Linked DNA regions of Homo sapiens: region 2 is linked to region 1. The links come from fine-mapping of genetic effects on gene expression. A gene starts in region 1. The other region holds a variant in brackets. All regions are shown on one strand. Distances are between the middles of the regions. Region 1 holds the start of ANO2 (anoctamin 2). Region 2 overlaps VWF (von Willebrand factor).

What was found. PIP is the estimated chance that this variant, and not a neighbour inherited with it, causes the effect. A credible set is the group of variants that fine-mapping cannot tell apart.
Region 2: its variant is the best candidate, but not a certain one, in a credible set for the expression of ANO2 in thyroid (GTEx, PIP 0.81).

The regions. Positions count from the first base shown.
Region 1 is chr12:5,943,050-5,947,569 of GRCh38, reverse strand. ANO2 (anoctamin 2) reads left to right here and starts at 2,311. Exons shown (of 25, transcript NM_001364791.2): 1 at 2,311-2,374. The coding sequence starts at 2,353.
Region 2 is chr12:6,118,678-6,122,677 of GRCh38, reverse strand. It overlaps VWF (von Willebrand factor), which reads left to right. Exons shown (of 52, transcript NM_000552.5): 3 at 1,340-1,504. Among named protein-coding and RNA genes, the nearest start is that of VWF, 4.0 kb to the left of the region's middle. RefSeq lists a silencer at 3,481-3,775. The variant G/A (reference allele first, on the strand shown) is at 2,273.

The sequences.
Region 1 (4,520 bases):
CCAGGTTCAGAACCCAGGTGACTTGACACCTGCATAAGAACTCCCAGGCCACCCCATCAGAGCCACACCATCCCTGTTGCTTACACTCCTCCCGTGCTGACATGGGGACCAGTGACTGCTGCACCCTTAAGTTCCCACCACTTCTGTTACTGCCTGAGCTTAACCTTAAGAGAAGCCACATTACAGGAAAATGGCATAGATTATGCTGAGTAGGCTTGGTGGGGAGTTTAGTGGGGCAGAAGGAAGGAAGAATGGATAGAAGTTTTATGTAACTACTCAGTAATTCAAAGGTTACTGTCTCTCCATCCATCACCCCACTCCCAACTTTGGGTAGCCTCTAAGGTCTCTCTTGGTAGGAAACCAGATCCAGGGACAGGGAATTAACTGTCACTCTTCTGACTGATCGCCTAACACTCTAGCTGGGGACAAGGTGTTATTGGAGGCATCAGCTCTGGAGAAATTCAGCAGGAAGGCTAGGCTACCACTGCAGCATAGGTGGTTGATTTTCCAACTGCCTGTGTCTTGCTAGCTTGAACTTCTCATGTTTACTGATATGTCATTTTACCGTCAAGAAAAAAGCTGAATCGGAAAACTGCATGTTTTGATTATTTTAAAAAAACCCAAAACGATGGAAGAGAGCTGGGTAAAAAGGATGCAAGAAGAGAAACTTGTGGGGCTAGTGTGTGCGGAGCGGTGTCTCGGCAGTCTTCTTTTATTTACAGGTATTCCAAAGGCACTATCTGTACCTGGTTTCAGGGACCCTCTTTTTTACTCACCCTCAGACCAGGCAAGACAGAGTGCCCCAAAGTGGATGTTTTAAGGGGAGTCTCAAGGAAGGAGTATATAGACACTAAGAAACTGCTGGAGGGAAAGAAGAAAGGGAATGAATGAAAGAGCAATGGTGACCATTTTTCAATCGTTTGGGGATTGAAAAGACATGATAACGGTCCCTGGAAGTAGACAGGGAGAAAGGGGTTGTTAGGGACAGAAAGGAGCAGAATAGCAGAGTGTTATGCCACAGACTCCAGGGCAGGCTGCCTGCTTTGGAATCCTAGGATCCTCTTAGAGGCAAGTTACTTGCCATTTAACACTGCAGTTCTCTCATCTGTAAAATGGGCACACTGCAGTGATTGCCTCATATACTTATTGTTAGGATTAAAATAACTACCATAGGGAAAGCACTGAGAAGGGTGTTGGGTGGAGAGGAAGTCCTGTAGAAGCATTAGCTGGTAGTACTTGCAGTGGATGGAATAAAGGCCTGGGTTGGGACATCACATCTTGTGGTTTTCCTTCTGCTCTGCCCTCGACTGTGGTGTCACTTACTCCCCTTTGCTTCCCCAGGCTCCTTCTCTATAAAGTGGGATCTATCATGACCAGCCTACCTTATCAATATAGGAGAGAAAATCTTCATGCCTGAAGGTCAGTGATCACAAATGGCATACTTGACCTTAACATAGTACTTCTTCATTTTGGGGGTCCATGGTATTAATGAACTTGTTTTACTTCTGTGCATCTTGGAGTTGCAGATTCCATCGTGCAGAAGGGCCCTTTGGAGGTCTTCCCTCCCATCCCCCTGCCCAGGTCCGTGAACTGTCCCGGGGAGATGGCACTCCTCTTCCCCTCTGGGGATGGAGCTTCCATCATCTACTCCCTCAACCTTCCTTAACCCTCCTAGCGTCTCATGGGAGAGCTCTTGTAAAATGGACCCCTCCTCCTGCCTCTGGCAGCCCCTCCTGTTTTGCGGTCCCTTGTGCACTTACTACCTGCCTCTTCTCCCTTTTGTTCTGCTTAACCTAGGGGAAGGTGAGGACAGCTGGTCTCCACCTAGTATGGAGACAGGTGTGGGAGATCCGCCGTCCAGGGGCTCGCCCCCACTCCCGCCCCAGGGCTAACTCTTGGGCAGTGGATGACCCTTTGGGGCGGCGGGAAGAAGGTTTTGCTGGCAGGATTGGAAACTAATCAGCCAGACAGTTCATGAGATAATCCGACTGAATTTTTACACTCGAAGCAGGTTGTGGGGCGTTGCCCCGGCTCTGGGGGAGCAGGGAGCGTTTACTGTCTCGCCCCTCAGCCCCACGGACCCGAGTGTGTCCTGGACTCAACCCGGCCGCGGGACCGCGCTCCATTCTCGACGCCCCGCTCCCAGCACCCGGGCGCCCAGGGCGCAGCGGGGAGAGCTGGGCTGTGGCTGCGCGGCGCCGGCGGCCGGGAGGGATGGGGGAGGAGGAGGCGGCAGCCGGCGAGGGGCGGGCGCGCCGGGACGGAGCTGAGCCGCGATGGAATTAGCCCCGCGGCGGCATAAGCCTGCCCAGAAGCGCGCGGCCGCGGGCCGGCGGGGTCTGCGTCCACATCATGGCGACTCCCGGGCCGCGCGGTGAGTTTTCCGGCTGGACCTGGTCCTGGTCTCCTACAGGTGGTAGGAGGGAGGGAGTGAAGGAGGCGGCATCCGAACTCCCACCCTTCGGGATTGGGGACCCCCAAGGGAGCCTGGGCAGGGTGGTGCGGGAAGTTGACCCCGTTTTTCCAGGGTAGGGACTCTGAGGGACGTCTATGTAATTTCCGAGACGTTTTTTGTTTTTTGTTTTGTTTTGTTTTTTTTTTAACTCAAGGAGAGGGAAGGTAGGACAACAGAGGTTTGGGCGGCCGCTTCTCTGTGATTGGTTACCAATCCCCACCTCTGTGATGTTGCCTCTCCTTGTTACAAGTCCTGGGGACGTTTAGCCTACAGCATCTGAAGGTAAGTAAACAATAAGTAAACAACCAGCCGGACTGGGTTTAACTCAGCAACGGTCCGCTGAGGACAGAGCAAATTTGACTTTGGCATCCCTGGAGTGGCCTCTCAGTTTCAGAAGTTTTTTCCAGTGTCTTACCCAAAACCGCATTCAGGAAGGGTTCCAAGATCAGGCATTTACACCCCAGGCTGCAGGGAAACACAGCTATACCTTCCCGAGGGACTTTTCTTAGAAGAAAAGCAAATTGAGGTGGAGTATGGAGAAGAAAGACGTTATTTTATTGCTTTTGGGCAGGACTGACTTTGCCTGGGACAGGGACTTTGTCGGCTGTTGTGTTTCTGGTAATTCTTGAGACAGGCATGAAGAGGGAGGTGCCCGCTCCTTTGGCATGAACAATGAGCTGAGTGCACTGGGAGGTGGTGTCAGTCACAGTCCTGATACTTTGTGAGCAGATGTGGAGAAATACCACCCCGGGACCATGTGGAACCTCGTCTGGGACAGAAGGTCCCACTGAGCAAGGTCGGGTCTCAGCCCAAAGGCAGGTGGCAGGTGGAGGGAGGATCTTAGACAAGGTGAAGGTGCTTCCAGAGGACTGTGGTCCTCTTGGCCCTCCACCTGCCGAGCCTTTGTCCTTGGAACCTGGCATCAGAGCCCCTGCCCAGTCTCTCTGTCACCCTGGCTCAGCTGCTGGGCATCCAGGGCTCATTTGCTCCTCTCAGTGTGTCTTAACGTGCACCCGTCATTTCCGGAGCCAAGCACCTGATTCGATCCTTTCCAGCAACTGCTTCTGCTGTCTGAGTTGCCTCTATGTGGGTACCAGAGCCACTCTGCTGGTTGACTGTAGAGACTGTGTGAGGGGTAAGGGTGGGATCCAAACACACACCTCAAGTTCTAGTCCAGTTTCCAGGTGTGCCATCTCTTCATCTTCCATTGTGGGGCAAGGCTGCAGGGTGAGAGGCATTTGGGCCTACTGGGGAGTGTGTCTATAATTTTCTGTAACAAAGACCTAATTTTCTGGAAAGCTACCCATTCTGTGGGCTGAGAGAAGCCCATCCCACCCTATGTATGACGTTGCTAGAGCACATGCATAGCAGGTATTTGGCTGCTAGGGACGGTGTTATTGTCTCTAGTACACGGTATAATCCATCTGTATTGTTTAAAAATTGTTTTAAAAATGTCAGTAGTTTTTAGGGTACGGGGTTTTGCTTTTGGTTACATGGGTAAGTTCTTTGGTGGTGAATTCTGAGATTTTAGTGCCTCCTCACCCGAGCAGTGTACATTGTACCCAGTATGTAATCTTTTATCCCTTATCCCTCCTCCCACCCTTACCCGCTGAGTCCCCAAAGTCCATGATATCATTCTTATGTCTTTGCATCCTCATAGCATAACTCCCACTTATGAATGAGAACATATGATATTTAGTTACCCATTCCTGAGTTACTTCACTTACAATAATGGCCTCTAGCTCCATCCAATTTGCTGCAAAAGACTTATTTTGTTTCTTTTCATGGCCGAGTAGTATTACACACACACACACACACACACACACACACACACACAAACACACACTCAAACACAGACATCCCACATTTTCTTTATTCACTTTTTAGTTAATGGGCATTTAAGTTGGTTCCCTATCTTTGCAATTGTGAATTGAGCTGCTATAAACATACATGTGCATGTGTCTTTTTTATATAATGACTTCATTTTCTTTAGGTAGATGCCCAGTAGTGGGATTGCTGGATCTAATGGTGTTCTACTTTTAGTTCTTTAAAGACTCTCCATACT
Region 2 (4,000 bases), 180 kb before region 1:
TCATACTGCTGCCCTTCCCTTGCTAAGATTCTGGGTCTGCAAATGGCGGGAGGGGACTTTTGACCTTGGGCGCTTTCCACTTAGATCTCTCAGGTCAGCAGCATCCAGCTACTGCCCACAGGTGAGTCTGGGAAAAAAAATACACATTTGTCACACTCTCTGCATCTTCCTACTAGGTGGGTCTTTTGCCGGGGAACCCAGAACACTTAGAGATTTACTGCTGTATTTCCCCACCTGCCGACACACACACACCCATAGTCAGTGAAGGAGTTAGCCTGTGACGCCGGAGGAGTTCACACTTCAGAGAGTCTATGTGTCAGGCACACAGTCTGATCTGTTTAAAATTTAACATGCCCAAGACATGCTAGTAGATTTATGTACAAAGATGCTCACTGCAATCTATCTATAATATTAAAACATGGAAAAATGCTAGAAACCTAACAATAGAGGGCTATACTATAGACATTCAGATGCAAAATATAATGCAGCCACTAAAAACCGCATATTGGAAGTATATACACTAGCACGACAAATTGTTTACAATCTATTGAGAAATAAACAGAGGTTATAGGTAGTTTGCACAAGTTGGTCACCAATTTATAAAAAACCCACAGCTGTATATATGCTATACAACAAAATGGAAAGATGAACATTGAAATGTTAACTCTAATCATCGCTGAATGTTGGGTTACAGATGGTTTTAACTTCTTTGTCTTTTCTTTTCTTTTTCTTTTTCTTTTTTTTTTCGAGACAGAGTCTCACTCTGTCGCCCAGTCTAGAGTGCAGTGGTATGATGTTGGCTCCCTGCAACCTCTGCCTCCTGGGCTCAAGTGATTCTCCTGCCTCAGCCTCACCAGTAGCTGGGATTACAGGCGCCCACCACTACACCCGGCTAGTTTTTGTATTTTTAGTAGAGACAGGGTTTCGCCATGTTGGGCAGGCTGGTCTTGAATTCCTGACCTCAGGTGATCTGCCCACCTCGGCCTCCCAAAGTGCTGGGATTATAGGCGTGAGCCACTGTGCCCGGCCAGCTTCTTTGTTTTCTTCTGTATGCCCCAAATTTTTAATAATGGACATGATGACATTTTAAATCAGTAAGTAAATGTCATTGAAACTAATGGATTTCCTGAAAAACTGTTCCTTAGTTATTGCTGTGAGTCTGGGGTCATATCTGGGAGCTGAAAGCAACAGCTTTAGTCTCATTTAGGATGGAAAATACCTCCCCACAGCCCAGTTTCTATCAGAGGCAGTCTAATTTCTACGAGGCCAGAGAGGTTTGAGCTGATGGTCCCAGTTGTGCCCTGAGATCACCAGCCCAACCTGTGGCCTCTCCCTCCAGGGACCCTTTGTGCAGAAGGAACTCGCGGCAGGTCATCCACGGCCCGATGCAGCCTTTTCGGAAGTGACTTCGTCAACACCTTTGATGGGAGCATGTACAGCTTTGCGGGATACTGCAGTTACCTCCTGGCAGGGGGCTGCCAGAAACGCTCCTTCTCGATTATTGGTGAGTTCTGGGCACTGCAGGGAGGACTTCAGAGGGAGGGCTGGCTGAGCTTAGCCCTGGTGTGGGGGAGGATTCCTGCTCTCAGGACAGTGTCTGAGCGGAAAGGTCACTGCTGAGAACAAGGAGAGGAACAGCCTTTCTGTGACACGTAGCCCCTCTTGGCTTTCCCCGGGTCTCTCCCCACGGGAGCCGGGTGGGATGGATGAAGAGAGTCTTCATCTTTGGTAGTCCACTGTGTCCGTTGCTCTGGGGCCCGGCGATGCCCTGGGAACTCCACAGCATCAAGGCAAATGATGAACTAGAGAAGGTGCTTTGGAACGTGTAAAACTCCTTGCCAGAGAGAAGACTCGTTGTTGTTTTCTTGGTGGCCTGTGGATCAGAACATCAGCTTATGCTGAGGACTTCCTGTATTCCTGCAGAAGGGCTGGTACTGTCCCTGCCATGTCCCTGCATCCCCACAACAGCCCTGGGATGTAGCTGTAGTCATCCCAGTTTTACCAATGGAGAACCAAGGCTCATGAAGGTTGCATGATCCTTCCAAGGCCTGACAGACAATAAAAGGTGGAGCTGAGGCCGGGCACGGTGGCTCATGCCTGTAATCCCAGTACTTTGGGAGGCCAAGGTGGGTGGATCACCTGAGGTCAAGAGTTTGAGACCAGCCTGGCCAACATGGTGAAACCCCATCTCTACTAAAAATACAAAAATTAGCCGGGTGTGGTGGTGTGTGTCTATAATCCCAGCTACTTGGGAGGCTGAGGCAGGAGAATC[G/A]CTTGAACCTGGTTGCAATAAGCTGAGATACACTCCAGCCTGGGCAACAGAGCGAGACTCCATCTCAAAAAAAAAAACAACCCACAAAAAACAAAAAAACTGGACTAAGCAGGCCAAGGACAGAGCCCAAGGCCAAGGCTTAATCTAGAAGAGGGCTCAGAAGTGCCCCACTCAAGTTTGGTCAAGGAGGGAGTCTTTGGCAACACCTGGACACTTACCTGAGATCTGGGCTGTAGGGCTCCTGGGGTCATTGCTCCATCAGTCAGCGGGGACTGACACAGGGTCCTCCATGTGCCCAGCACTGGGCTAGGCTCTGTCTAGCACCTGGCTATAGCTATGAGCTCCCCGCATTCCTGCTTTCTCCCTGAGGCCATCTTTGCTACCTGCCCTGACTCTGCTGGGAAACTTATCACATATGACTTCTGGGCACTGCCATCCTTCCCACTCCTCCATGAGCTCCTCAGGGACAAGGAGCATGTCTCACTCATCTGTGTTTCCTGGTGCTTAGCTCACCGAGTTCTCTGTTGTGCTGAAGATTATGTATTTATTTATTTATTTTTGAGACGGAGTCTTGCTCTGTTGCCCAGGCTGGAGTGCAGTGAGTGGTGCGATCTTGGCTCACTGCAACCTCCGCCTCCTGGGTTCAAGCAATTCTCCTGCCTCAGCCTCCCAAGTAGCTGGGCTTACAGGTGCCACCATGCTTGGCTAATTTTTGTATTTTTAGTAGAGACAGGGTTTCACCATATTGGCCAGGCTGGTCTCGAACTCCTGACCTCAGGTGATCCACCCGCCTCAGCCTCCCAAAGTGCTGGGATTACAGGCATGAGCCACCATGCCTGGTCTGAAGATGTTTACAGAGTGTGTGTGAGGAGCCCTAGGGAAGGAGCTTTGATTGGCCAGAGAAGACAGGGGAGGGTGCTGCATGTGGTGGGGACAGCATGAGAAGTGGGGAGGCTGGAAGGGGCATGTACTCCTGACATGGAGCCCTGGGGAGGTCAGTGTGGCTGGAGCAGCAGTTGCCAAACTCCAGGCTGCATCAGGACCACCCGGAGAGCTGTGACAAACAGATCACTGGGCCCTGCCCCTGGAGTTCTGACTCAGTAGAAATGGAAGGGGGCCTGAAAATTTCCCAACTGCTGCTGCTGCTCTTAGGGTGGGTAACCAGACTTTGAGGGTGCGGGACTGGAGGAGAGTAGGCTGGGAGGCTGTACCATCGGGTGAAGCTGCAGTGTAGGGTCTTGGAGTCTGATGGGGACTTTGAGTCGATTCCGCAGGCTGTGAGGAACTAGTATAGGGTCTTGTGCAGCAGGGAAGTGGTGAGAGGAAACTGGTTCTTTGCCAAGATGGTCCTGAAAAGGAGAGAGGTAGGAGGCGGAATGGCCTTGGCCGTGGTAACCAGGGAGGTAGTGAAAAGGCCAGAGGCGCCCCAGGGCATGACAAATAAGAAAGTCATCCTCAACACTGACCGTGAGGGTCCCAACTTGCTTCAGAGGCTGCAGCTGGGGAGGAGCTGGAAGAGCAGCTGGAGAGAACCCCTGAACCCCTGCCCCTGGGAAGCTGAAGGCTCATGCCCTCCCTACCTTGGTGACCCCAGATTTTATTTAAAGTGGATTTTCCCATTTTATAAATCACGGCAGAGCTGATACAGACCACTACCTGTGATGGCTCTGGGGTTGTCAGTGGGAATGGAGGGTTAGAAGTGACCGGAAGAGGCCGGGTGCACGGGTG